Linked DNA regions of Homo sapiens. The protein of the gene in region 1 interacts with the protein of each later gene in a pairwise test. Each region holds a gene or a part of one and is shown in the gene's direction. Other genes may lie near its edges. The genes, in order: HMOX2, ASGR2, FYN, MRM1, SGPL1, NUP54 and DHX36.

Region 1 (4,374 bases):
GCTTTTCTGTCTTTGCTTGTGGCTCTTCTGGTTATTTGAGAAAGGCAAAAAAACCCAAAGTCTTTTTTCTACTCTGTTCCCACAGTCACTCAACACAACACTTCTGATACCAGATATATGGGAGTTGTTTCCCCATACACCAAGCAATTCTCTAGTAGACACACCGGTGCGGTGTCCTCTAAGTCAGTTAAATTCTGATACTCTATCTGGAGATAGCGTCAGATCCCACCAATTGAGGGCTCAGTCCCACAAAACTGTCCCAACTTGAGGCACTAGTCACAAGTAGTAAATTGTCACCTATACTTCTGACCTACTAGCTATAAATCGAAAGTTCTGACAATCCCTCCTCGAGTTTGATTAATCTGCTAGAGTGGGTCACAGAACTCAGGAAAACACTTTACTTACATTTACCAATTTACTCTAAAGGATATTAAGAAGGATACAGATGGCTGGGCGTGCTGGTTCATGCCTGTAATCCCAGCACTTTGGGAGGCCAAGGAGGGCAGATCACCTGAGGTCAGGAGTTTGAGACCAGCCTGACCAATGTGGTGAAACCCCATTTCTAGTAAAAATACAAAAAAATTAGCCGGGTGTGGTCGTGCATGCCTGTAGTCCCAGCCACTAGGGAGGCTGAGGCAGGAAAATCGCTTGGACCCTGGGGGCAGATGTTGCAGTGAAATGAGATCACGCCACCGCACTCCATCCAGCCTGGGCGACAGACTGGAAGAAAAAAAAAGGATACAGATGAATAGCCAGATGGAAGAGATGTATAGGGTGAGGCATGTAGGAAGAGGCATGAAGCTTCTACGCCCTCTCTGGAACTTTCGTGTATTCAGCTATCCTGAAGCTAATGCAAACCCTGGTGTGTGTGTGTGTGTGTGTGTGTGTGTGTGTGTGTGTGTGTGTGTGTGTGTGTGTGTGTGTGTTTATGGAGGCTTCATTACAAAGGCATAATTGAATACGTTATTGGCCACTGGTGATCAACTCAACCTTTAGACCTTCTCCCGTCCCCTGAGGTTAAGGGGGTAGGGCTGAAAGTTCCCACCCTCTAATCACATGGTTGGTTCCCCAGGCAATCAGCCCCCATCTAGGAGCCCACCAAGAGTTACTTACTTACAACAAAAGATGCTCCTATTACCCAGGAAATTCCAAGGGATTTAGGAAATTACAAAAGTTTTAGGAGCTCTGTGTCAGGAACTGAGGTTAAAGACCAATATCAGAATGAAGGATTCTCCTAGTGCCCCCATCTACAAAGGTTTTAGGAGCTCTGTGCCAGGAACCTAGGGTGCAGATCAAATATATCTATAAATCTTTTTGTTTGTTTGTGTTTTGAGACAGAGTCTTGCTGCGACACCCAGGCTGGAGTGCAATGGCGCTATCTCGGCTCACTGCAACCTCCGCTTCCCGGATTCAAGCGATTCTCCTGCCTCAGCCTCCCGAGTAGGTGGGACTACAGGTGTGCGCCACTATACCTGGTTAATTTTTGTATTTTTAGTAGAGACGGGGTTTCACCATATTAACCAGGCTGGTCTTGAACTCCTGACCTCAAGTGATCTGCCCACCTCAGCCTCCTGAAGTGCTGGGATTACAGGCATGAGCCGCTGCATCCAGCCTCAAATTTATCTCTGTATCTTCTTCTAAATTACAGTATCACACCCGTGCATATGCCCAAAAATTTTTTTTTTTTTTTTTTTGAGACGGAGTCTTGCTCTGTCGCCCAGGCTGGAGTGCAGTGGTGCGATCTCGGCTCACTGCAGGCTCCGCCTCCCAGGTTCACGCCATTCTCCTGCCTCAGCCTCCCGAGTAGCTGGGACTACAGGCTCCCGCCACCATGCCCGGCTAATTTTTTGTATTTTTAGTAGAGACGGGGTTTCACCGTGTTAGCCAAGATGGTCTCAATCTCCTGACCTCATGATCCACCCACCTTGGCCTCCCAAAGTGCTGGGATTACAGGCGTGAGCCACTGCACCCGGCCTCATATGCCCAAATTTTAAAGGAGGCACCACATTCAAGTCCAAATGCCTAAAGGTAGAAGGATCAAGAAACAGTAGTATGAGGCCATTTGAGAAGTATATATAGTTATCCCTCAGTATCTGTGGAGATTAGTTCCAGGACCCCTCAAGGGTACCAAGATCCAGGATGCTCAAGTTTCTTTTCTTTTCTTTTTTTTTTTTTTTTTTGAGACGGAGTCTTGCACTGTCACCCAGGCTGGAGTGCAGTGGTACGATTTCGGCTCACTGCAATCTCCACCTCCCGGGTTCAAATGATTCTCCTGCCTCAGCCTCCCGAGTAGCTGGGATTACAGGTGTGCACCACCACGCCTGGCTGATTTTTGTATTTTTAGTAGAGGTGAGGTTTCACCATATTGGCCAGGCTGGTCTCGAACTCCTGACTTCAGGTGAGCCGCCTGCCGCGGGCTCCCAAAGTGCTGGTATTACAGGCATGAGCCACTGTGCCCAGCTTAAGTTTCTTATATAAAATGGTGTATAGAATTTGCATATAACCTATGCATATCTTCTGTATTCTTTAAATCATCTGTATTTATAATACCCAATACAGTGCTATGTAAATAGTTGTTATACTGTATCGTTTAGGTAATCATGACAAGAAAAAAAATCTGTACATGTGTAGTACATATGTAGCCATCTGTTGTTTTTTTTTTCCCTGAAGATTGATTGGTTGATTGAGACGGCATCTCACTCTGTCACCGAGGCTGGAGTGCAGTGGCGCAGTCTTGGCTCACTGCAACCTCCACCTCCTGGGTTCAAGCGATTCTCTTGCCTTAGCCTCCCGAGTAGCTGGGATTACAGGTGCCTGCCACAACCCCCGGCTAATTTTTATATTTTTAGCAGATTCCGGGTTTCACCATGTTGGCCAGGCTGATCTCGAACTCCTGACCTTAAGTGATTCACCCACCTCCACGTCCCAAAGTGCTATGATTACAGGGGTGAGCCACCATGTCAGGCCTTTTTCTGAATATTTTTAATCTGAGGTTGGTTGAATCCACTGATGCAGAGCCCATGGATATGGAGGGCTGACTGTACTGTATTGAGCTTCTAAGGTATGCAGAGTATTGGCACTGAGGGGATGTGCAAATACAACAACAAACCAAGCATAGTCTTTGTTTACTAGGAGCTGGTAGTAACTGTGGGAAGACACAAAACAGTAAAATCACTTTGTAAGGTTTATGAGAGTTTTGAGAGGCCAGGGAAGTTAAAGAGTGGAGAAATGGAGAAAATGGGAGAACTTGTACTGAACCCATTAGGACAGAGGAGGAAGGGAAGAGAAGGAAGGAGGCCAAAGAAAGAAGAAACCCTTCTTAGAGCACTCAGGGTCTTACTGAAAACTTTACCCATAAAAAGAGAATGTCACTGATAGACTCCTTTTAGAACAGGGATTGATTTTTTTGTTTTTGTTTTTGTTTTTATTTTTGTTTTTGTTTTTGAGAGAAGTCTCGCTCTTGTCCCCCAGGCTTGAGTGCAATGGCTTGATCTCGGCTCACTGCAACCTCTGCCTCCCGGGTTCAAACAATTCTCCTACCTCTGCCTCCCAGGTAGCTGGGATTAAGGCACCTGCCACCACGCCCGGCTAATTTTTGCATTTTTAGTAGAGACAAGGTTTCACCATGTTGGCCAGGCTGGTCTCGAACTCCTGACCTCAGGTGATCCACCCACCTCAGCCTCCCAAAGTGCTGGGATTACAGGCTTGAGCCACCATGCCTGGCCACAGGCAACATTTTTAAACCATACGATTGTCCTGGAGAGAGAATCTGAAGCCTTGCTCTGATTCTGAAAGGGATTTGCAACCAAAAAAGGATAAGGATTGTTCTGACAAGTACCCTTTCTTCCCATCTTCAAAAGTACACATCTCTTAATTTGTGTCTTCAAACACAAATTGTGTTCAAAAAAGGAAGTATTTGAGTAGATTAAAGACAGAAACCCTAGGACATTCCTTTGTAAACAAACAGCCTTTTACCAAACACCAACTGTCAAGGGACTTGCCTGAGTACTTGTCCAAAGGACAGCGTGTCCCCATGTGTAGGCAGTGGTCTAATCTGGTTCCTAGGAGAGGACTGCTGAGGCCACAGCAACTTAACTGGCTAGTGTGGGTGAGGCAGAAGTGTTTGAAGCTCAAGGTCTGTCAAGGACAGCTGATTAGAGTATGTCTGTCCCTAATACAGGGTTAGAGCTCAGTACCAATGCTGGGGATGAGGTGAGTTGAAGACACAGAAACTACATGGTTTTTTGGAAGGTCACGAACTTTTCAAGGAACTAGTGGGCAACTGGAAATGATATGTGAAAGAGTAGAGGGAGCTCTGGCCTAGCTGCCAGAAAACTCTGGGCAGGTCAGGTCTGGGAACAGTGGCTAATCCAG
Region 2 (4,374 bases), on another chromosome or scaffold:
CCTTTTTCTTTTAAAGATTTCAATTATGCATGTATTAAGGGTCCCACAGCTCACTCATTCTCTTTCCATTTTTTAATTCTTTTTTCTCCCAGTGTTTCATTTTATAGAGTTATTGCTGTTCATTAAGTTAACTAAAATTTTCCCCTTCCCCTCCCCCTCCCCTCCCCTCCTTTCCTTCCCTCGCTTCCCCTCCCCTCTCTCTCTCTCATCTCACTCTGTTGCCCAGGCTGGAATGCAGTAGCTTGTCACAACTCACTGTGGCCTCCACCTCCTGGGCTCAGGCGATCCTTCCACTTCAGCCTCCCAGGTAGCTGGGACTATAGGCATGTGGCACCACACCTGGCTAATTAAAAATTTTTTTTTGTAGAGACGGTTTTGCCATGTAGAGGGGTTTTGCCATGCTGCCCAGACTAGTCTTGAGCTCCTGGGCTCAAGTGATTCCCCCCGTGTCGACCTCCCAAAGTGCTGGGATTACAGATGTGATCCACAGTGCCTGGCCCTAAATTTTTCTTACGCATTTCTCATCTTCCATTATTTCCATCCAGTGTGTTTTTTCTTTTCTTTCTTTTCTTTTTTTTTTTTTTGGAGGCGGAGTCTCGCTCTGTTGCCCAGGCCGGAGTGCAGTGGCGCGATCTTGGCTCACTGCAAGCTCTGCCTCCCGGGTTCATGCCATTCTCCTGCCTCAGCCTCCCGAGTAGCTGGGACTACAGGCGCCTGCCACCACGTCTGGCTAATTTTTTGTATTTTTAGTAGAGATGGGGTTTCACCATGTTAGCCAGGATGGTGTCGATCTCCTGACCTCATGATCTGCCCGCCTTGGCCTCCCACAGTGCTGGGATTCCAGGCGTGAGCCACGGCGCCTGGCCAGTGTGTTTTTTCATTTCAGACATTGTAGTTTTTATCTCTAGAAGTTCACCTGGGGACTCTTAAATATCCTCCACAATTCTACTTAATTTTTTGAACATAATGGGATATGGCTATAATATCTGTTTTACCATCCTTGCCTGCTAATTCTAGCATCCGTGTCAGTTCTGGATCTCTTTTGATATTTATGAACCTCCTCGTTATGCATTGTGTTTTCCCGTTTCATTGCATGCCTTGTAATCTTTGATTGGCTGCCAGACATTGTCAATTTCACCTTGTTGGGTGCTGGATATTTTTGTATTCCTCTAAATGTTCTTGAGCTTTGCTCCGGGATGCAGTTAAGCAACTTAGAGTCAGTTTGATCGTTTGAACTCTTAATTGTTTTGGTCTCCTCGGACTCTCAGCTCCATCTCCTCAACGTGGGGAGTCTCTTGGGCTCTGCCTGGACTTCCCTTTCCTGGCCTGTAACCTGCAGACTCTCTCCAAACAGTAAGCTGGGGTGATCGGAGGGTTCCTGTTGTTTGCTTCTTATCCCTCAGGGATCTTTACTCCTCCTTGCCTGATGTCCAGAGTCTTGAAAGCTGCCATGTTCTATAGTTGTCTGTTTTTGTTTTGATTGTTTCTGGGGAGAGAAGAACTCTTCCCATCTTGGGCAGACCCTGTCTTTTATGTTCAAACTTTTGCCTAAGAAGCACATTACATATTTTAACTCATCTAATTATCCGAGCAATCCAATCGGGTAGCTACGACTGTGATCTCCATTTTACACACGAGAAAATGGAAGCATGGAGAAATTGAATGCTGGTGCATGATCTCAGAGCTACCTGGAGGCACAGCTGGGCTACCCTGTGGGCAGTCTGGTTTCAGGGTGGATATACAGACACGTTGCTGGGCTGACCCAGCATTGGGAGTTGATAAGTCGGACTGGGAAGCAGGACAGGACCCTCTGAGTGGAGGGTGCTGAAGACAGCAGTCAGGGACTCAGCCATGGAGGGCCAGCTTGGTGGGGAACACCGTGGTCATGGAGCGCTTCTGGATGGAGAGGAATGCAAAGGCCTTGGAGGAAGGGGTGGGGGCAGTGAGAGGGAGGGTGGGGCTGTGCTCAGAGCGGGAGTGGGCAGTGGAGGTGTCAGAGGCCTCCCTGGGTCAAATGGGGTCCTGAGTGTGGCTGCAGTGGGGAAGGTGGAAGTCACTGGTGTGAAAAAGATGAAGAGTTATGGACAGTCACTTACAGGGGCAGTGTCTGACTCAGGACAGTGGCAGGAAGTGACCTGGGGAGGAAGATTCTGGGCCCCTGACTGAGCCTCCCCAGGATGTGGTCCTGCTGGGTCGGGGGGTGATAGGAATGAGAAGACAAGGAAGTCCACAGAGTCAGGGTCCAAGGCCTAGAAGGTGTTCTGTTTGCAGGTGGATGCTGCAAAGAGAGGAGCTCAGGGCTGGGACAACTGGAGCTGCTCTGGGTCTGGAGGCAGCAGAGAGGGAGCCCAGCTCTGTGTGCAGGAAGACGTGGGTGTGTGAGTGTACGTGTGTGGGTGTGTCAGGTGTGTGTGTGTGGGAGGGAGTATGAATGTGTGCATTAGCATGCATATGCACATGTGAGAGTGGGTACAGCAGAGCGTGGTCATGAGTGTGTGCAAATGTGTGTTTTTGAGTGAAGTGAGCAATGTGTGAGTGTGTGAGTGTGTGTGAGTTTGTGAGGGCATGTGAATGTGTGTGTCAGTGCTGTCAGGGTGCAGATGGATCAAGGGGCAGGAGAGGTACCTGTGAGATGACCTCGGGCTGAGGGGAGCAAATTTAGTGTGGAACGAGGTTTCTAGGGAAGCGAGGGCAAAGGGCGCTGGGGAGGAGGCCTTGCGTGGTGGGGGATGAGGACAACAGGTGGGACCTGGAGGGTTGTGCTTGGAGAGTGGGCTATGGTGGAATGACCCAGATTTAAGGATCTCAATGGAATTTTGGCAGGGGAGGGACTGTTCCAGTATGGATTTTAGGAAGAACACAGGGCCCAGCTTCTGGAGTCTCCAATCTGAGGGGACAGGAGCCTTAGAAGAGCTGAGACTAAGGCCCGAGGTGATCTGGAGGCCTCTGCCACTGGCTGGATGGGAGGAAAACCATTCACAGATCCCCCTTCTCAGGATGTGTGCCTAGGCAGGGCCGGGTCTGCCCCCCCGCCCCCTGTGCGTCTCCCAGTCCCCCAGCTCCAGGATCCGGGCTTTGCACACAGCTGATGTGAATATCCTGAGTCGTGTGCATGGGTGTGTGTGCACCAGATTAGCTGCGTGTGTATATTTATACATGGTAATATGGGTGCGAGTGTGTAAGAGTGTGTGTGTAATGCTCAAATGCTGGGGTCAAAGCCTATGATGACCCCCCCCCATGGCCCCAACCAATCCCCCCGCCCAGGTTATGCCTCCTCAGGCTTCGGTGCCCTGTCTTTACCCTCCGGCTCCCCACACCCAGGCTGCCGGCTCCTGATGCCCCTCTCCCACAGGGCCACCTCCTGCCCAGCCCCTGGCACAGCGTCTCTGCTCCATGGTCTGCTTCAGTCTGCTTGCCCTGAGCTTCAACATCCTGCTGCTGGTGGTCATCTGTGTGACTGGGTCCCAAAGTGAGGGTCACGGGGGCCAGCAGGGATGGGCAAGGGGTAGGGAAAGAGACATGGGCAGTGGCGGGCAGCGATCGGGGCGATGGGAGGGGAAGGGATGGAGGCGGGGTGGAGCACAAGCTGGGGCAAATGCGGGGACATTGAGGGGCCAGTCACATGGACAGTGATGGGGACACGGCCCCTCTGCCTCATCCTGCCCCCACTACCACCTGACAAGGTGCACAGCTGCAAGCCGAGCTGCGGAGCCTGAAGGAAGCTTTCAGCAACTTCTCCTCGAGCACCCTGACGGAGGTCCAGGCAATCAGCACCCACGGTGAGGGGCTGGACGGCTGGGTTCTCATTTATCCGCACAGGTTTGCTGGGCTCAGTGCCGAGTCTGCAACAGGGCTGTGTGGGGTGCCGTGGGGGTGCAGGCTGGGCAAGGCGTCCAGGGGCCCTGGGGGATGTATAGGAGGGAGGCAGGTGGGGACGGACGAGGTTAGTGCCAGGTGGAGAGGTTGGATCTGCGACACCCGGAGGTGAGGAAGGCACCATGTCTTGGGCCTGTGAGCAAATCGAGTGTGGCAGGCCCATCGGAGGGGCAGGCAGGTAAGGGGTGGCCAGAGAGAGGTGGGGAGGGGCCCGGCCACGCAGGTGAGCCGTGCTGACAGAGCGAGGCTTTATTTTGAGAAAATGGGGACCCATTGAAGGGACTGAAGCAGGAGAGTGGCCTGAGCCACTGTGGCAGTGCAGGGAGCCTGGGTGTGGTCCAGGAAGCCAGGAGGTGGACGCCTGCATCGCCCAGGACGAGGCGCTGGCCCCCGGTCCCCCAGCAGCATGAGGACGGAGGGAGGCTCAGCGGGGAAACAGCTGGCTTTCCGCTTCCAGGAGGCAGCGTGGGTGACAAGATCACATCCCTAGGAGCCAAG
Region 3 (4,374 bases), on another chromosome or scaffold:
CACCCGGGCCCAGTTTGAAACACTTCAGCAGCTTGTACAACATTACTCAGGTAACCTTAATTCTAACTACCTACTAACCATTTGGATGCTGGAGGGAGTGGATAGGCCCAGAGCAGGAAAGTGGAAAGGGGTAAAACTAATATGTACAAAATCACTTATAGAGTATGTTTTCTTTGCCAGCCCTTAATGGTAGGGCTTGGCTGTATAGGTTCTATTGCTATTGTTCTACTGTTGTTATTATTAGTTCCACATGTTTGTCCGAAGATTCTATAATATTTTTGTTTCCCAAGTAGAAAGCAATAGGTTAAATTTTAAAAGTTGTTTGTTTTTTCATCTTCAAGTTGTCTTTTCCCATTCCCCGCGTTGCATGTGAGAAAGCAGTCTCTCGGAGGGCGCTTACATGGGGACTCCTACAAGGAATATTGTGTTTCCACTATCACTTTACCCTCAGCACTGTTGCAGGAATAGCTGCACGTACATTTCATTCTCATGCAAGCCATTTATCATGTTCCCCACCAATACTGCTGTTTCCTAACTAGGCTTAGACTTACACAACCCACAGCTCTTAGATCTATTATGTCTATTGTGTTAAATTAAACTTTTATAATGTACATCAGTTTCTGTCCTAACACCCAGATATCACCATTATTTTGTTCTTTCTGAAAACATATAATTATTAGATATGCAGTTTATACATTTTATCAAAGACTGGTTTTATGTGCAATTGTTAAAATGATTGCTTTCTTTCCTAGATTAGCAAGTATTATATGCCACTATATAATACATGTTCACATGTGCCTATAGATATAGGTGCACATGTATAGACACATGTCTATATCCTATTAAGCCTAGAGATATTTTTTTGTGTGACCCATTTCTCCATTTTCTATTGTTCTCCAGGACAAAGGCAAGACTCAAAAATAGTATATGATTTACCTCTACTATTGCTCTGTGCACAATCATTGAAATATGTATGTATAATTTTTGGCATGAAAAAGCAATCTTTCGAAAATGACAATAAGAAATGTCTGTTGATCCCTTGCACTAATGAACAATAGAAAATATTAACAGCACTTGCAGTACTAGTTGATTATGGCATTGGCTAACTCGGTTTATGTGGATTCTAATGAAACATTTGGGAGAAATGGAACAAAATATCTCCCTGAGCTTAAGTGATATACTCAAAATGCCTGCATGTTGTAAGGATTTTTCAAATGCTGAAATATATTTCATTACAGCCAAACATCAGCAGGATCCCCAGGGTTTGGATCATTTGAAAATACTGTGTTCGAAAGGGCACCTTAATAACATTGTAAAGCTGGAAGGAAAGAGGGGATATGAACAATAGACACTTTTTTTAATCTCGGGGAAAAAAAATCCATCTCACGTTAGACTTGTTTTTATATTGGCTTTCCCTCTTCCCTCTTTCTCTCTCACACAATAAAATGCCTTTGAAATGCTGACACATAAATAATTTCCTACCTAAACATCTCAGAGCCTGATTCCATCAAAAAGAAAGGAGTAAAAAGCAAGTTACAGCCCAGCAGCACATCTGCTTTCCCTGGGTCCGGGGGCTGCCAGGAGGGAGCGGGAGGTCTGTCCACCTCACAAGGCAGGCTCTGTCAGCTTTTGTCACTCCCTGATTTCTTATTCTTTGTTACCTTTTTTCGCCTGACTGATTTTTACTTGGCATTTAAGTTCCCCTTAGCACTGCCAGATTCTAAAAGGTTATATTCTTTTTAAAAAAGAAGAGAAAGAAAGAAGGAAAGAAGACAAAGAAAGAATAAAAACCTCCGAGTGTTAACTACTTTTTCCTTTCTTCTTTTTTTTATAAAGAATACATTCTTTCACATCTTGAATTTCTGTGAATTTTAGTTTCCATTCTTTCTCCTTTCAAACCAGACACCTAAATTATACGTCGAAGACTGTTAAAAAGTTGTTTTTTTTTTTTTAATGGAAAATATCCAAGAAGCAGCCCAGGAGTATCTGACATGGTGGAATGGAATCAGTTAGAAAGCGAAGAAATCACTAAAAAAAGTTACTTCTTTTTTTCCCCACCAGTTATAATCTTCAACCTTACTAGTTTATAACAGTTTAATGTCCTATAGAAGGATCCTCCACTAAAGTTATAATTTTAAGTATAGTCATATAGAGAGATCCCTAATCCCCTGGGTAATCTAGATACTAAAGGTGGGGAAGAACAGTCATATTGACATTCTTTAATCCAAAACCACTGTTTGAAATTAGTAAGGATATTTTCAGCATTCCCAAAAACATGTTATTAGCACGTTGAGCTGAAAACGTTTTTCTTCCTCAGTGAGTACAGAAACCAAAGCAGTCTGCGTGTATGTCTATGTATAGACTGTATCGTACCTGGGCTCATGGAGTAGTCTAAATTTAAAACGTCCTCTCTTCTACCTCCAATGAAAATGTTTCCGTGTGTGGCGTCTGATCTTCCACCGTGTGTGTGGTCGTCTGCTGGTGTAGCGCTGTTTAAGGAGCGCTGTGTGCTGCTAGTGTTCCACGATGTGTGTGGTCGTCTGCTGGTGTAGTAGCACTGTTTGAGGAGCACTGTGCGCCGCTAGTGTGGGTTTACACTTATGAGTGTTGTCATTACATGTGTTCTGCTCTTCTCTCCCTCTCCTGCCCCTGCCCTGCTCCATCAGAGAGAGCTGCAGGTCTCTGCTGCCGCCTAGTAGTTCCCTGTCACAAAGGGATGCCAAGGCTTACCGATCTGTCTGTCAAAACCAAAGATGTCTGGGAAATCCCTCGAGAATCCCTGCAGTTGATCAAGAGACTGGGAAATGGGCAGTTTGGGGAAGTATGGATGGGTATGCTGAGACTCAATTACTCTCTTATTAGCTTCCCCGTTTGGAAGATCCCAAACACCAAAGATGGAAGGTGAAAATAAAGACTGCGTGACCGGGAAGAAAGTTTGAATTACTAATAGTGGGGAATAATAATTTCAGTTTTGGTTTTAACATTCTGGAATTCCTAAAAAAAAAAAAAAAAAAAAAAAAAGATAGTAAGTGGGCAAAATTGGCAAATGGCTCAAGTTGTACTATTACATGACTCTCAATTCATAAACCAGCAAATGGTCCAAGGAATGTTCCAGCTGCCATAAAATATCTTGCTCTTCATTTCCAAAAGCAAATATTTGTTGAGTGTCATCCTAACGGGCAAGTCACCTTCCATCTTTCCTAGTGCATGCATAATTATGGATTATAAGGACTGTGTTTTCTTTATTAATTCCCTTTCCTGTAGAGAAAGCTGATGGTTTGTGTTTTAACTTAACTGTGATTGCATCGAGTTGTACCCCACAAACTTCTGGATTGGCTAAAGATGCTTGGGAAGTTGCACGTCGTTCGTTGTGTCTGGAGAAGAAGCTGGGTCAGGGGTGTTTCGCTGAAGTGTGGCTTGGTAAGGCAGAGGGCACATTTTGTTTTGGCTGCATCTCAAAGCCGATTAAAAGGATGGTTTTGAACAAAAATGCACACACAGCCGTTGGGACAAAGACACTTAACCTGGATAACTAGACGGGCACAGGCCATCCAGATTTTCAGAATATGCTGATACCTTGCTGTGCTCATCTGTCCTACTTCATGTGGTTAATTAAGGCACCCGCAGAACAGGAAACCAGTACACTATGAATCTGGTGTTTCCTCTTCCTAAGAAATGGGAAGGTAAGATACTGTATATGGGCAGCCATAAGAAAGACCATGGACGTTTTGCTCAATGGGCCTGGGTTTGAATCCTTACTAGCTAATTAACCACGAACAAGGGGCATATTTAACTCCTTTAAGCCTCAGTTTTTTCATCTGTAAAATTGGAATGATACCTTTTTGTTGTTGTTGAGACGGAGTCTTGCTCTATCACTAGGCTGGAGTGCAATGGCGCGATATTGGCTCACTGCAACCTCCACCTCCCAGGTTCGAGTGATTCTCCTGCCTCAGCCTCCCGAGTAGCTGGGATTACAGGTGCCTGCCACCACGCCCAGCTAATTTTTGTATTTTTAGTAGAGACGGAGTTTCACCATGTTGGCCAGAATGGTCTCGATCTCCTGACCTGGTGGTCTGCCAGCTTCATCCTCCCAAAGTGCTGGGATTACAGGCGTGAGCCACCACGCCCGGCTGGAATGATACTTATTTAAAGGATTATTTTTAGGATTACATGGGTTAATATGTTTAAAGTCCCTTGCAGATAGTAGATATTCAGTAGAGATACATACTTCTCTTTATTTGATTGTCATTGATAAGGCTGGCTGCACTGGGCCTTTGTAATTTCTTTTATAGCCCTTTTGGGTCAGTTACAGCTTTGCTTAGAAACAATTCATGGGTTTAGGCCCCACTCAAAAACATGTTTCAGTAAAACAAT
Region 4 (3,315 bases), on another chromosome or scaffold:
CTCAGAGACACTGCTGTAGCAATTTTCCTCCTCTTCCTGCAGCATCCACTTTTCTCTTACACTCTCTTCAGCATGCAAGCAAACATTCCCCTCTCACGCTCTTGATCTCACACCAGTCAGCTCTTCCTCTCACACTGAATCAAAGGCTTCATCAAGGTCACCAGTGGCCTCCATGTTGCTGCATTCCAGGGTCTGTTCTCAATTCTTTTCTGACTTGACCCATCTGCAGCAGCTGGCACAGTTGACCACTCCTTCCTCCTTGAAACACTATACCTGCTTTCCTTCTGCTTCACCATGTCCTCTCTGAGAGACATTTTTAGTGGTTCTTCCTCAACCCCCTGACTTCCGAGCATTAGCATTTCCCAGATTTTAGTCCTCGGATCTCTTTTGTTGTTGTTGTTAAGAGATGGGGTCAGCTGGGCACAATGGCTCACGCATGTAATCCCAGCACTTTGGGAGGCTGAGGCAGGCAGATCATGAGGTCAGGAGATCAAGACCATCCTGGCTAACACGGTGAAACACCATCTCTACTAAAAATACAAAAAATTAGCTGGGTGTGGTGGTTCGTGCCTGTAGTCCCAGCTACTCGGGAGGCGGAGGTAGGAGAATCGCTTGAACCCGGGAGGTGGAGGTGGTAGTGAGCCGAGATTGTGCCACTGCACTCCAGCCTGAGTGACAGAGTGACGTGTCAAAAAAAAAAAAGAGATGAGGTCTTGGCCGGGAGCGGTTGTTAAGAGATGGGGTCTTGGCCAGGCACGGTGGCTCACGCCTATAATCCTAGAACTTTGGGAGGCTGAGGCAGGTGGATCACCTGAGGTCAGGAGTTCGAGACCAACCTGGCCAAAATGGTGAAACCCTGTCTCTACTAAAAATACAAAAATTACCTGGGCATGGTGGCGGGCACTTGTAATCCCAGCTGCTCGGGAGGCTGAGGCAGAAGAGTTGCTTGAATCCAGGAGGCGGAGGTTGCAGTGAGCCGAGATCACAGCGTTGCACTCCAGCCTGGGCAATAAGAGTGAAACTCTATCTCAAAAAAAAAAAAAAGAGAGAGAGAGAGAGAGAGAGATGGGGTCTTGCTGTGTTGCCCAGCCTGGAGTCCAGTGGCACAATCACAGCTCAGTATAGCCTCCGAATTCCTGGGCTCAAGCCATCCTCCCACCTCAGCCTCCTGAGTAGTTGGAGATACAGGTGCACACCATCTCACCTAATTTTTTTCTTTCTTTTTTCTTTTTCTTTTTTTTTTTGTAGAGATGAGGTCTCACTTTGTTGCCCAGGCTGGTCTCAAACTCCTGGCTTCAAGAAGTCCTCCTGCCTTAGCCTCCCAAAATGCTGGGATTACAGGCGTGAGCCACCTCACCTGGTCCTGGATCTCTTTTCTGTATATGTTCATTTCTTGTTGGTCTCATCTAGTCTCATGGCTTTAAATACTATCTGAATTCAAATTCCCGCCCAAGTGTATACTCCAGCCTGGACCTTGGTTCTGAATTCCAGATTCACTCATCTAGTTGCCTACTGCACAGTTGTTGTTATTGTTGTTGTTGTTTTGCTGTCAGGCGGGCATTTCAAACCTAACATTTCTAAAACTGAGCGCTTGTTCCTTCTGGAGCAACTCCATCCCTTTGGTTGTTTAGGTCAAAAACCTTGGCATCATCCTTAACTAAAGTTATTTCCGTATTATCACCATTTCTGCCTGTTTCCACTGCTACCACTCTGGCCCAAGCAAGTCACCATCATCTGTTGACCGTTATTGCAGAAACTTCCCACCTGGCCTCCTTTCTTCTGCTCTTGGCTCTCAGCACAGCAGGCAGAGTGATTCTGTTGAAGTCATACCATGTTACTTCTCTGCTCAAAACCTTTCAAAGCCTCTGTACCGCTCAGATTCAAAGGCAGAGTCCTTCCAGTAGCCCTGGAGACCATACCTCATGTGGCTCTTGTTCCTTCTTCTGTCTTGACGCCTCTCTTCCCACTGGCCACCTTACTGTTCTCAAACATGCCAGGGAGGCACCTGCCTCTGTGCTTGCTGATCTCTCTGCCTAGAATGTTCTTGCCCCAGATGTCTGCACGGTGCTCCTCCTTCTCCTTCAGGTCTGCACTCAAATGTCACCTCAGTGAGTCCATCCCCACCTGCCCTTCCACAAGGCTGGGATTTTGGTCTGTTTTGTTTTGTTCAGTGCCCTGTCCTCAGTGCCTAGAACAGAGCCCATGCTAGGTGCTTAATAACTATTGACTAATTGACTGGATCAGCAGATAAATGAATGTATGGGCAAGGCTGGGCTCTTCCTTGGCCAGGGCTCTGATGGATAATTTTTTTTTTTTTTTTTGAGATGGGGGTCTCACTCTGTCACCCAAGCAGGAGTGCAGTGGCGCAATCTTAGCTCGCTGCAATGTCTGCCTCCTGGTCTCAAGAGATCCTCGTGTCTCCTGAGTAGCTGGGATTACAGGCTGATTTTTGTATTTTTAGTAGAGACAGAGTTTCACCATGATGCTCAGGCTAGTCTTTTTTTTTTTTTTGAGACAGAGTGGAGTCTCGCTTTGTTGCCCAGGCTGGAGGCAGTGGTGTGCTCTCAGCTCACTGCAACCTCCGCCTCCCGGGTTCAAGCGATTCTCCTCCCTCAGACTCCCAAATAGCTGGGACTACAGGCATGTGCCACCACACCCAGCTAATTTTTTGTGTGTTTTTAGTAGAGACGGAGTTTCACCATGTTAGCCAGGGTGGTCTCAAACTCCTGACCTCAGGTGATCCGCCCGCCTCGGCCTCCCAAAGTGCTGGGATTACAGGCGTGAGCTACTGCGCCTGGTTTTTTGTTTTTTTTTTTAATTTGAGATGGAGTTTCACTCTTGCTGCCCAGGCTGGAGTACAATGGCGCAATCTCGGTTGACTGCAGCCTCTGCCTCCCGAGTTCAAGCGATTCTCCTGCCTCAGCCTCCTGAGTAGCTGGGATTACAGGCATGCACCACCATGCCCGGCTAATTTTGTATTTTTAGTAGAGACGGGGTTTCTCCATGTTGTTCAGACTGGTCTCGAACTCCCAACCTCAGGTGATCCCCCTGCCTTGGCCTCCCAAAGTGCTGGGGATTACAGGCGTGAGCCACCGTGCCTGGGCCAGGCTAGTTTTGAACTCCTGACCTCAGGTAATCTGCCTGCTTCAGCCTCCCAAAGTGCTGGAATTACAGGCTTGAGCCACTGCATACAGCCTCTGATGAAGATTTGATGAATTAGAATAGGAGAGGCAGGCATGGTGGCTGACGCTTGTAATCCTAGCACTCTGGGAGGCCAAGGTGGGAGGATCGCTTGAAGCCAGGAGTTCCAGACCA
Region 5 (4,374 bases), on another chromosome or scaffold:
GGTAACTAGTTTTATGTGGGTTTCCAGGCTTGGCTTAAGGGAGCCGGCGTCTGAGACCGGGGTGCTCATGGTTTATACCTCATTGTGGTTTGTTTGCTGGTTTCATCTCTGATGATAGTGTGCTGAAATTTCACACTTTTCATTTTGCTTTCTTCTGCCAACTCTGCTCATAATAGTTCTCAAAATTCCTAGGACTGGATAGGAAAGGAGAGAAGAAGGAAGCTATTGCAGAAAAAGGCCACTCCAAAGCCATATAGAGAACAAAAAATAAGTATAGACAAAGGCAAATGTTCCTGCTGTTAGAAGGCAGTTGAGGATGAGGACAACATTATTATCAGATTGCCTTTATTGTAGCTAAATGCTATTAATATCTTTTTCACATTGCTGATAATAATGATTTTTCATCTTTATTTTATTGTGCTAACTCTATTGAACTTTTTTCTTGATTTGCTATAAGAATGCTGTTGGGTTTCCACTCAACATTTTTTTCTTTTGTATCCAGAGGAGTTTCTTCCTGTTTCTTCTTTATCAGAACCTGTCTTCCCAGAGATTCTTGCTTACTGACCAGTGACCTTACCTTTCTCTGCAGACGCCTTCTGGCAAGAGGGGAGAGCCTCTGGAACAGTGTACAGTGGGGAGGAGAAGCTCACTGAGCTCCTTGTGAAGGTGAGTGTCCAGTTCTTGAGGGAAGCCTGTGAGGTCTGTGCCAGTTTACATGACCTCCTTTTTTTCCCTTACTTTTGTAATTAGAAAAATTACTTAAGGAAAGCTTATTGGTACAATAAAACCATAAAAGTTTCTCTTCACCCAAACATAGGCGAATATGTATAATATTATCAAAGACATCTTCAGTCTGTAAAATAGTAAAATGTTATTTATGTTTTCAGTCTTTGCAGATGTCCTGTCTAGAAGGCAGATTACTAGGGAAGGTAGTCCTGTCAGATGAGATTTTTGTGGTGAGACAGATTTTGTTTGATAAGAAGAGATAAGATAGGGAAACTCTTTCATAATTTTCTCAAATCATGTGACCCAAGATGAGCAGTGGTCTCATGTATACTTCAAATAATTCTCATTCTTAGCTTCTTCCATTTCTAATCAAATTTATTTTTATTTTATTTTATTATTTTTACAGACAAAGTCTCACTCTGTCACACAGGCTGGAGTGGAGTGGTGTAATCATGGCTCACTTCAGCCTTGACCTCTTTGGCTCAAGTGATCCTCCCACCTCAGCCTCCTGAGTAGTTGGGACTACAGGCGTGCATCATGACACCCAGCTAATTTTTGTATTTTTTTGTTGGAGATGGGGTCTCACTCTGTTGCCCAGGTTGGTCTTCAACTCCCAGCCTCAAGTGATCCTCCTGCCTTGGCCTCTGAAAGTGTTGAGATTACAGCTGTGAACCACTGCACTCGGCCCTCATATTTATTTTTGAAACTCCACTTCATCATATAAAATTGGGGTTGTACTGATGATCTCTAAGGTCTTTGTGTTTGATTATTATAAATATGAAACTGTCCCTTACTAAATAAATATGGCAGGTTTTGCATAAGTTGGTGTAATGCTCTGATCTTCTGTGCTTAAAATCTTTCAGTAGCTTCCCATTATCTACAGGATGAAACTCAGGTTCTTATGCAGCAGAGAATACAAGTTTCTTCATGAGCCAGCTCCCACTTATTTTTTCTTAACTACTTCTCTTCATTTCCCACATAAACACTAATCCTGCCTTTTCTCTTTACTAAATGTGTCATGCTTTTACGTTGTTTTCCTTCCCTTCCATCATTCCTCTTGTTCCAAATGATGATTCCTACTCATCTCTCAAAGTTCCACTCAGCAGACACCTCTAGATCACTCAGGATGTTAGTTGTTCCCTCTTCAGGGTCCCTTAGCACTCTGTACACACACCTGATATTGCAGTCGATAACAACAGCTGCTTTGTGCCAGACACTCTACTAAGTGCTTCACATGCATTATGTTATTTAATTATTGCTAGAACACTAGAAGATAGCTACCATAACAACTTCTGCGTATGAAGAAACAACCTTAGATTATGTGACCTACACAGCTGAAAGTAATAGGCAAAGCTTAGACTTCCTCCTGGGTCGGTTTGGTGTTATAGTCTGCGCTTTTAACCATATTTATACTTCTTTCCTCATCACATTGTAAAATTATTTATTTACATGTCTGTCTCCTCTGCTATGTTTTGATCTTTTGGTTGAGGAATATATCTTATCTTTTTTTCCAGTTTATATTGTTGTGCCTAATACTTAGAAACTGTTGTTTAGTGCATGATTCTTTGTCCTGTATAGTGTAATAGTTTTGATTTCACATCTGCTTGCATTTTTTTGCAGGCTTATGGAGATTTTGCATGGAGTAACCCCCTGCATCCAGATATCTTCCCAGGACTACGCAAGATAGAGGCAGAAATCGTGAGGATAGCTTGTTCCCTGTTCAATGGGGGACCAGATTCGTGTGGATGTGTAAGTATATGCAAGGGGCATCCAATAGCCTTATTTTTTAGGTTAAAATAGAAGAGTTTTTAATAAATATTAATTATATTTTAAAAAATAAAAAATATTAAAAATATTTTACTACACAAGAAATATTTGATCATTGTAGAAAGGTCATTTTACTACACAAGGAATATTTGATCATTGTAGAAAGATCCTAATTAACTGCAGTTTTAAATGTTACTTGTAATTTTGTAACCTAGACAATGTCAACATTTTGGTATATATTCTTCTAGATATTTTTATTTTCACCTTTTTATTTTGAAAAACTTTGAACCTACATTGAGTTGCTAGGATGGCTTAAAGAACACCTTAGATTCACTAAATGTAAATATGTTGCCATATCTGCTCTCTACACTCTTTCCCTCCCTACCCGCTTCTTCCCTCATCCCCCACCTGCATACCTACCATTCCCCTATTTATCTGTGTATACTTTTGTTGTTCCATCCAGCAGTGTTTTTAGTGTACTTCTGGTTTTACCTGAGCCAAAGTTTAATTTATTATTTTGCTGTAAACTGAACCTCATTTAGTTGCTATTAGGCATAAAGAAAGGGGGAGGACATCATTATATTTAAAGAAACACATGAGGATTCTTTGTTTTACCTGTTCTTTCAAGTAGATGGTTGTTAGTTTTCGTAAACTATGATAGATAAACTTCTGTTTAGATCTGTTGTCTTTAGAAAAAACGAAATCTCAGGTTATGTAGGATAGATAGATTTAACTCAATATGCTGCAATGGTGTCCTAGAGGTGCTAATCCTATCAGATACTCATCATATTTGCAGTCATTATAAAGACTGCAGATTTAATTATTGAAGGGCCCATTCGAAGAGCACCTAATTTAGTTTCTTTTTTTTTTTCCAGGAAGCATTGTTTTTGTTTTGTTTTTCTAATATGTTGGCGCCATGAAAATCATCATGTTCAAATATTAGTAGTAATAAAGGTGATATGCCTGGCATTCATTTTCAAAGCAAAATACTGAAACTGTTAAAAACAGAACCACCCATAATACAGCAGCAGTTTCCCTTAGAGTACTGAGGTGAACAGGGTGACTTTCAGAGGGAAGATGATAATGTACTTACAGTATATTCTCCTATGCCATTAGACTCTTGAAGAACTTGTAAGAGGCCAGAGTGAATAGCCACAGAACAGTTTGGCCTTATCTGGTAAATTTGAAGATACATATATCTTATGACCCAGAAATTCTGCTACTAGGACATACTCTAGAAAAATTAGTACACATATATATCAGGATATATGGACATTAATATTCATAGCAATGTTATTCATGATAGCTAAAAACTGGAAGTAATTCAAATGCCTATCCACAGGACACAGATGAATAAATTGTGGAATGCTGTGTGTGCCTCAATCCATTGTAGCTCTTATTCAGATTGATGTACAAATTGCCTCATCCATCTTTGGCCAGTGGAAACATCATATTGGCTCCTAGGTCCATTTACATGACCCAAGTAATCTTTGAAAGCCTTTTTTCTCTTTCTTTCCTTTTTTTTTTTTTTTTGACGAAATATTCCAGGTTCAGGTTCACTTTGTCCATTTCCTGCTCCAGGCCTTCAATCAGCCATTTATCCAAGGAGCCCTGGTTCATTTAAAACTAGGTAAAATAATTACATAGTTCCAAAATCACATTTATGGAACAAGACAGATTAAAAAAAAAAAGTTAACCAGAATGCAGTCCAGAGAGACAAAGAAATAGAAGGTATGAAAGAGAGGCTAAGAGATGCAAAGGATAGGATGAGAAGGCTAACACACATCTAACTGGTGTTTGAGAGCAGCCAGAGAAAATAGATTACCTACAAAGGCATAACTGTTAGGACAACTGATACTCAATAGCAACGATGGCTGGGGC
Region 6 (4,374 bases), on another chromosome or scaffold:
TCCAGTCTAGTTTTTTCCTACCTCATTGTTAGTCCTCCTTATTGCTTTTGTCCACTCATCTTCCTCTCTCTGTCTCTACAGAGATGTTACACATACTGTTGGCCTTTACCTCTACCCCATGGCTTAGCTGACTCCTTCCTTTAGGCCCTAACTGAAGTGCTAATGGAACTGTCTTCTCTTGACCCCTCTCTCAGGCTTGATCAGCTCCCTTATTTAGTACTCCCAGAACCTCTGTACTTCTCTGAAGGACTTATCACAATTGTTAATATTTGTTTGATGTGTTCAGTTTGTTTAATGCACCTTGTCTACCTTGTTTACCACTGTATCTTTAGTATTTGGCTCTGAGCACTTAGTAGGTACTCAGTAAATATTTGTTGTATGAATTAATGGTGAATGAATGAATGAATGTGTTTATAAAAAACCAAGAGAGACTGTGTTGTCAGGAAATTTAAGGGAGAAGGGCTTTCAAGGAGGATGTGTATTCAACAGAAGGTGAAGATTTTCTTTGGGGGCCAAAGGAATAATCAACAGCATGGGAGGCTGACTGCATATGTCTCGGTATAGAGATCACAGTTGATTCATCTCATGTAAAAGTTGAGGAAGATAAAGCCCAGGAATTTCTTGCTCAAGGATAGAAAGCGACCTTATAATAAACCAGGATTCAAGTGTTCTGAGTTCTAGTCCAGTTCTTGCCAATGTTTATATATACTAATTTGGGAATTAATACTTTTCTGGAGAGTAAAAGAGCCTCTCTCTAGCTCTGTAGAAGCTCCATGGACCTTGTGGTACTTTCAATGTTTAGAGCTGAAAGAGAACTTAAACAATATCTAATACAGTGTTTTAAAACTCAGGTCATTTTGGTATTCACGTTTTCTCCTCATCTACATACCATTTGTATTACTATTTAAGAATTTTCTTTAAATCAGTTTACTTTGAAACACGAAATACAGTTATTTTAAAGTAAAATTTATTGCTGCTATAAGTGGAAAATTAGTATCATTTGCTCTAAGGAAAAGGTAATTGAAATTAAGTACAAAGAAAATATAGTGTAAATAAATTCTAGGTAGATAACTTTGCCTTAAGCTCTGAGCCTTAGACTTGCTCCTCGCTTTGTTGAAAGATGACATACTTATCTCACACTTTGGGGCATATTTATCTGCCCTAAGAACTTGGCCCTTCTTTCCATTAGAGAAATTGGTATCCCAGAGAGGTTGATTTGCCCAAAGTTACACAGCCATCTAAAGTTTTAGCCTAGAATACTGATGGTTAATCCATTTGTTATTACTATATATATTTTTTAATAATGAGAGAAAGGAAAATGTTTAGTAAGCTGGTATTTGATATAACAATGATTTTTAGACTTTGTATCCCCCAATTTGTATTTATTATATAAATATAACAGCAATAAAGGTTATTTTAAAAAATCCTACATCTTTACAAACTTTTTTTTATCCACATGCATCCCTTCCTCCCTCCCTCCATTCTTTCATGTGTAGGTTTAATATTGTGGACCCAATCTGTGTTCTGGTAATGGAATTAATTTGGATAACATCATTAGGGCTGGGCACAGTTGCTCATGCCTATAATCCCAGCACTTTGGGAAGCTGAGGCAGGAGAGTCGCTTGAGCTCAGAAGTTTTGAGACCAGCATGGGAAACATAGTAAGACCCTGTCTCTACAAAAAATAATTTTAAAAAATTAACCAGGTGCACATTGGTGCACTCCTGTAGTCCCAGCGACTCAGGATGATGAAGCAGGGGTATTGCTTGAGCCCAGAAGGTTGAGGCTGCAGTGAGCCATGATCTTGCCACTGCACTCCAGTCTAGGCAACAAAGTAAGACCCTGTCTCAAAAAAATATTATTAGAAAAACAAATTTAACGTTATAAGGTTTGGCCTAGTGTGTTAGTTTCCTATTGCTGCCATACCAAATTACCACAAACTTAGTGGCTTAAGACAATAAAATTTTATTATTTTATAGTTTCTGGAGATTAGAAGTCCAGAAGTGGGTTTCACTGTGCTAAAATGAAGGTCCTGGCAGTACTGCGTTACTTCTAGAGGCACTAAGGGAGAATCCATTCTCTTGCATTTTCCAGTTTTTAGAGTCTTCCTGCATTTCTTGGCTCGCGGCTCTTCCATCTTGCCATATGCCAACAGCATAGCATCTTCAGATCTGTTTGACTCTGAGCGCACTCTTCCACTTTTGAGGATCTTATGATTACGTTGAGTCCCTCCTGATAATCCAGGATAACCCTCTATCTCAGCATGCTTAATTTAATCACATCTACAAAGGCCCTTTTGCTATGTAAGATAACATATTTATAGGTTCTGTAGATTAGGATATGGGCATCTTGGAGGGGGCCATTATTTTGCCTACCACGCCTAGGATCTGGATTAAGTTTTGTTTTGTTTTGTTTTTAAATACTAATTTTGGGTACATTTTTAGCATTAGGTGGTCTCTTCAGTCAGCCTACACAAGCTCCTACCCAGTCCAACCAGCTGATAAATACTGCGAGTGCTCTTTCTGCTCCAACGCTGTTGGGAGATGAGAGAGATGCTATTTTGGCAAAATGGAATCAACTGCAGGCCTTTTGGGGAACAGGAAAAGGGTATTTCAACAATAATATTCCGCCAGTGGAATTCACACAAGAAAATCCCTTTTGCCGATTTAAGGTATTATTAATACTATTTTTATCTTCAGTTGAAGATTTTGTATAACAGAAAATATATTTAGATTAATATCAAGATAACAATTGCTTGGATCTTTACTCCTTGAACATGGTATGATTATACTTTTATTTTGAAAATATAGAAATTATAAAATTGAAGTGATTTCATACATATGTGTGGTTGAAGGTGACCAGAATATGAATGAAGGAAGGTGTGACTGGAATGTGATTTATAACTGAAGAAAAAAAATGTAAACAGGAGAATGGTTTGCCTGGCACCTGTAAAGGGGAGACACCAAACTACAATTTAGTGGTATTCATTTAACATTGGCCAGGAGAGTATACCCTAACCAGCAGACAGAAATTCCCCTTGGCATGTATAACCCCAAAGCTATTAAAACAATATTGCCCATTTTCTGTGTTCTTATTCCCTGCCTACCAAACAACCTTCTCATTTGTCTCTTCAGAAAATCTCTTTATCAGCCAGTGAGAGTATTTAGGTCCATTTGGTAATGCATTTTCCATAACAAATTACGTATTGCAATCCAGTTTATACCTCAGCCTCTTAGGAGTTATATTGGCCTACGTTGGTCTCTTAAACCTAATCAATATGTACATAACCCTGTGTTTGGAGCTGTAAGGCTGAGGATCAGATCCTTGAATAAAGTGGTCAGCCTGTCTTATTACAGAACATCTCTTTGTGTCATCACTAACAAAAAGTATATTGAGTGCATATAGTTGAAATTTTGATACATGTATTTAGTCGCTAAGAGGTATTCAATAATAGACATAAGTTGAATATAACAATAAAGTTGGTGTATAACATGGTAAAATGCATAATGTACACTTGAGTTAATTTAAATTCTTTTTTAAAAGTTGCAGGTGAGTGGTGAAAAGGGATAAAAGGCTTCTATCTAAAAGAGCAATTATTTAGAAAAGTATAATTGGTCATATTAATATGTAAAAAAACAACAACCCTGTTTCATAAAGTTTTGTATTATATAAACCAATAAAGTGATACAGACATTCTTTATAGTATTTGTAAGTTGACTGTCATTACTGTGATTTAAAAGTATTTATTTGTAAATTACTTCTTTATATATTTAAAACTTAGTTTAAGATTCCATGAATCAGATATACAGATACTCCTCAACTTATTATGGGTTACATCCCAATAAACCCATCATAATTGAAAATATTGTAATTCAGAAATGCATTTAATACACCTAACCTACCAAGCATCATAGCCTAGCCTAGCCTACTTTAAACATGCTCAGAACACTTACATTAGTGTACAATTGGGCAGAATAATCTAACATCAAGTCCATCTTATAATAATAATAATTTTATAATAAAAACTAAAAGATCAGAATTCCATGTATGGTTTACATGTATGTATATATGAATGCGTATTGCTTTCACACCCTATAAAATGGAAAAATCATAAGTTGAGAATCTGTATAGTGAAATAAATTATAATTAGTTGGTGATTTTTGCAGTCACTTTTATAATGACATGCAGATGGTTCAGAAACAACCAACAATAATGAATATCAAAATTTTTTAGGGGAGAAAGCTGTTTAGTTACTCTCTCAAAGAGGAAATGTTAATCTTACTCTATAGGTTAATGTTATTCCTGGGTAAAATAGTTTTTCTTTATAATTTTGTGACCTCCTAGGGCACAAAATGGTGGGAAGAATCATTATTCC
Region 7 (3,500 bases), on another chromosome or scaffold:
GCCAGAAATTTTTTTGTATGTGTGTACCTAACTTTACAGGTAGCTTAACAGTGAGTCACTTTGAAATTCATTTTATTTTCCTCTCTGCCATCCTGGGAGGGCTTTCTGAAAAAATGTAGTTTTCTTTGGACTGGTGCATTGTTTTGGTCCAGACTAGGGGTCAGCAAATTTTGACCTATAGGCCAAAAACTTGTTTTTGTCCTTTTTTTGTTGGAACACAAACATGTTGTTTTCATGTTGTCTATTCTGCTTTCCTTCTACACTAGCAGAGTTGGACAGAAATTATAGAGCCCCAAATATAGACCCTAAAATATTTACTCTCTGGTCCTGTATAGAAATTTGCTGGGCCAGGCACAGTGGCTCACACCTGTAATCCTAGCACTTTGGTTGGCTGAGGCTGTTAGATTACTTGAGCCCAGGAGGTGGAGGTTGCAGTGAGTCAAGATCACACCACTGCACGTTGAGAGATCATGCTACTGCAGTCCAGCCTGGGTGACAGAACGAGACCCTGTCTCAAAAAAAAGAAAAAAGAAATTTGTGAAGTTCTACTGCTCTAGTTATGCAGGGTGGCAGGATGGCATTGGTAAATTGACTTGAAGTGAGAAAAAATAATTTCTGGTTTTATTCTAAGTATTTAAAACTGTAAATTCATAACCATGATTCATGATTTTGATTACAAGTCTTATGAATTCTTAGAACTTCAGAAGTGGCCGGGTGTGGTGGCTCACACCTGTAATCCTGGCACTTTGGGAGGCCAAGGTAGGCGGACCACCTGAGGTCAGAAGTTTGAGACCAGCCTGGCCATCGTGGTGAAACCCCATCTCTACTAAGAATACAAAAACTAATTGGGTATGGTGGTGGCACATGCCTGTAATCCCAGCTACCCAGGAGGCTGAGGCAGGAGAATCGCCGGAACCCGGGAGGCGGAGGCTGCAGTGAGCTGAGATTGGGCCACTGCACTCCAGTCTGGGTGACAGAGCAAGACTCCGTCTCAAAAAAAAAAAAAAAAACTTCGAAAGAGACACTCGTAAAAACAAATAGGAAAGATTAGTGGATTATTAGCTTTTATGCTGTTAGTTAATACAGGTAATTAACATTAACTATTTAAAAATAAATTATTAAACATCTCCCTGTTGAATAATACTAAAGACTTTTACAAATTGAGATAAAATGTGTATGACTATCAAAAAAAAAATGACCTAGGAATTGAGAGATTGAATTAGAACTGTCAACATGAATTTAAACAGAATTCTTAACTTTTCATTTTTTATTCATCTGGGTCATACTCTGTAAAATTTTTAAGTTGATAATTTTACAGTTATTTTGTAAATCAAGGGCTGTTTATCAGTATTATGATTGTCATAGTAAAATGTATAAACTCTTGGTATGAATCACTTAATTATTTTAGGTACTTTTTTGTTATTTATTCTTCAGTGGTATAGTGTGCATTAACATTAAGGAAAAGAATATTCTGCCATTTTTCTAAAATGTTGAGTAATTATACCTGCAAGAAGAAGATTAGTTACATGATTTAAATTATTCATACTGATAGCATTTTTTCATATATTTTTAAGGAAATTATGCTCTGTCCTCAAATATAAATATATTTTTTTGCAAAAATAAACTGAATTATTCTCTGGAATTTTTTTAGATTCCGGGATTTGTTTGGTTTTTACCAAGCTCTTCTATCAGTTTTTCAAGTAGTGTAAAAAAAGAAAATCCTCTAGAAGACTTCTTTTTAACAAACTGCATTTTAACTTTTTTTAAAGGGTAAAAGTTTACACAAAAACCGATGGCCTGGTTGCTGTTCATCCTAAATCTGTTAATGTGGAGCAAACAGACTTTCACTACAACTGGCTTATCTATCACCTAAAGATGAGAACAAGCAGTGTAAGTGAACATTTAAAATAATTAAGGATCTGATTATCAGTCTCATTGTATTTTTATGATTGTGTAGTTTTAACAATTATATACAAAATTTTTTTTTTGTTGTGTCTTATTCCTGTGACGTGAGTAACTTTTTCCCTCTAACAAATAACCTATTCTTTTAATTTTCAGGTCTGTAATGATGGATCTTTGTATTTTAATTAGTTAGGACAGTTATTTGATTGCATAATTTTCTTTCAGAACTTGCTTTCAAGAAATATTGGCATATTTTATGGTGTACAGGAGTTTACATTGTATAGAAAGTTTTGTTAGCATGTCAGTATACCTTATAAGTATTGTTCAGCATGTTGAGATTCTGTTTATTTATATTTTTCTCTTTAGAACAGTAATTTGAGATGATTTATAAAAAACTGGATAAAAATAACTTCGGCAACATTAGTGTTTTGCTTTTGTCACTCAGAAAATATTTTGTTCAGAGTAGTGCTTAGTTTAAACTAAAAAATATTAAAATACCTATGTTCTCTGAATAATGAAGATGGCTCATTTAAAATGGTATTTCTTACAAATCTCTGTAATTACAATAGAAGGTTAATATTTTAGAAGGAAGATACTCATTAATTAATACTGGTAATATTGTTGAATTTATATAGTAATCTTTTCAGACTCCTGAATGTATTAATTCACTTTAATTTTCATTACAGATATACTTGTATGACTGCACAGAGGTTTCCCCATACTGTCTCTTGTTTTTTGGAGGTGACATTTCCATCCAGAAGGATAACGATCAGGAAACTATTGCTGTAGATGAGTGGATTGTATTTCAGTCTCCAGCAAGAATTGCCCATCTTGTTAAGGTGACTGACTTTATGTGATTATCTTAAATCTACATGTAAGTCAGCATGTGGTCATGTGGTTTTGTTCTAACTGTTAAATAGATTAACATTTCTTGCTCTATTTCAGCAGAGCAAATAATTTTGAAAAAATGATTCCTGGTTTTTCTGAATTGTGTTTTGAGGTGGTAACAGACCAGCCATTCTAAATGGCTCAGTGTGATTGCAGTGTGAATTTTAACTGCACTTTAGTTATTCACTCATAACCACACTTTAGTTGATTGCTCACTAAATGTTTTAGCTTTTGAGCCATCGCTTGTGAAACTCCTTGTATCAGGTAAATTAGTTTCATTTATTATGTTATTTGGTAATATATCTGCCTTTGTTGAACATGTATAATTTTTCCAACCTTAGGAATTAAGAAAGGAACTAGATATTCTTCTGCAAGAGAAGATTGAAAGTCCTCATCCTGTAGACTGGAATGACACTAAATCCAGAGACTGTGCAGTACTGTCAGCTATTATAGACTTGATCAAAACACAGGAAAAGGCAACTCCCAGGAACTTTCCGCCACGATTCCAGGATGGATATTACAGCTGACAGCTTTTCAGGGGTGGTCTGAAAAGCCAGTTTGACAGCCATTCTTCATCATTGTTTAAATTTTGGCTGGATGCCAAACCCTGGGACATGAACAATTTTCATGTGTAAGGTAGAAGCCTTCAGTAGGTAGTAAAGACTTAATGTGCATGACTTGATGTTATATGTAGAGATATATATATATAT

The links.
Region 2: the proteins of HMOX2 (region 1) and ASGR2 interact in binary tests that used the Homo sapiens proteins (3 or more experiments, as listed by UniProt).
Region 3: the proteins of HMOX2 (region 1) and FYN interact in binary tests that used the Homo sapiens proteins (3 or more experiments, as listed by UniProt).
Region 4: the proteins of HMOX2 (region 1) and MRM1 interact in binary tests that used the Homo sapiens proteins (3 or more experiments, as listed by UniProt).
Region 5: the proteins of HMOX2 (region 1) and SGPL1 interact in binary tests that used the Homo sapiens proteins (3 or more experiments, as listed by UniProt).
Region 6: the proteins of HMOX2 (region 1) and NUP54 interact in binary tests that used the Homo sapiens proteins (3 or more experiments, as listed by UniProt).
Region 7: the proteins of HMOX2 (region 1) and DHX36 interact in binary tests that used the Homo sapiens proteins (3 or more experiments, as listed by UniProt).

Annotation. Positions count from the first base shown.
Region 1 is NC_000016.10:4,482,299-4,486,672, forward strand, and holds part of HMOX2 (heme oxygenase 2), read left to right. Parts: intron 1-1,338; exon of another isoform or gene 1,339-1,456; intron 1,457-4,374.
Region 2 is NC_000017.11:7,107,867-7,112,240, reverse strand, and holds part of ASGR2 (asialoglycoprotein receptor 2), read left to right. Parts: intron 1-3,352; coding exon 3,353-3,469; coding exon of another isoform or gene 3,470-3,505; intron 3,506-3,683; coding exon 3,684-3,779; intron 3,780-4,333; coding exon 4,334-4,374. UniProt on the Homo sapiens protein: Mediates the endocytosis of plasma glycoproteins to which the terminal sialic acid residue on their complex carbohydrate moieties has been removed. The receptor recognizes terminal galactose and N-acetylgalactosamine units.
Region 3 is NC_000006.12:111,698,561-111,702,934, reverse strand, and holds part of FYN (tyrosine-protein kinase Fyn), read left to right. Parts: coding exon 1-50; intron 51-2,666; coding exon 2,667-2,831; intron 2,832-3,264; coding exon of another isoform or gene 3,265-3,420; intron 3,421-4,374. UniProt on the Homo sapiens protein: Non-receptor tyrosine-protein kinase that plays a role in many biological processes including regulation of cell growth and survival, cell adhesion, integrin-mediated signaling, cytoskeletal remodeling, cell motility, immune response and axon guidance.
Region 4 is NC_000017.11:36,604,111-36,607,425, forward strand, and holds part of MRM1 (rRNA methyltransferase 1, mitochondrial precursor), read left to right. Parts: intron 1-3,315. UniProt on the Homo sapiens protein: S-adenosyl-L-methionine-dependent 2'-O-ribose methyltransferase that catalyzes the formation of 2'-O-methylguanosine at position 1145 (Gm1145) in the 16S mitochondrial large subunit ribosomal RNA (mtLSU rRNA), a universally conserved modification in the peptidyl transferase domain of the mtLSU rRNA.
Region 5 is NC_000010.11:70,857,025-70,861,398, forward strand, and holds part of SGPL1 (sphingosine-1-phosphate lyase 1), read left to right. Parts: intron 1-589; coding exon 590-666; intron 667-2,346; coding exon 2,347-2,475; intron 2,476-4,374. UniProt on the Homo sapiens protein: Cleaves phosphorylated sphingoid bases (PSBs), such as sphingosine-1-phosphate, into fatty aldehydes and phosphoethanolamine. Elevates stress-induced ceramide production and apoptosis.
Region 6 is NC_000004.12:76,134,482-76,138,855, reverse strand, and holds part of NUP54 (nucleoporin p54), read left to right. Parts: intron 1-2,443; coding exon 2,444-2,670; intron 2,671-4,374. UniProt on the Homo sapiens protein: Component of the nuclear pore complex, a complex required for the trafficking across the nuclear membrane.
Region 7 is NC_000003.12:154,275,988-154,279,487, reverse strand, and holds part of DHX36 (ATP-dependent DNA/RNA helicase DHX36), read left to right. Parts: intron 1-1,769; coding exon 1,770-1,890; intron 1,891-2,588; coding exon 2,589-2,741; intron 2,742-3,131; coding exon 3,132-3,317; 3' UTR 3,318-3,500.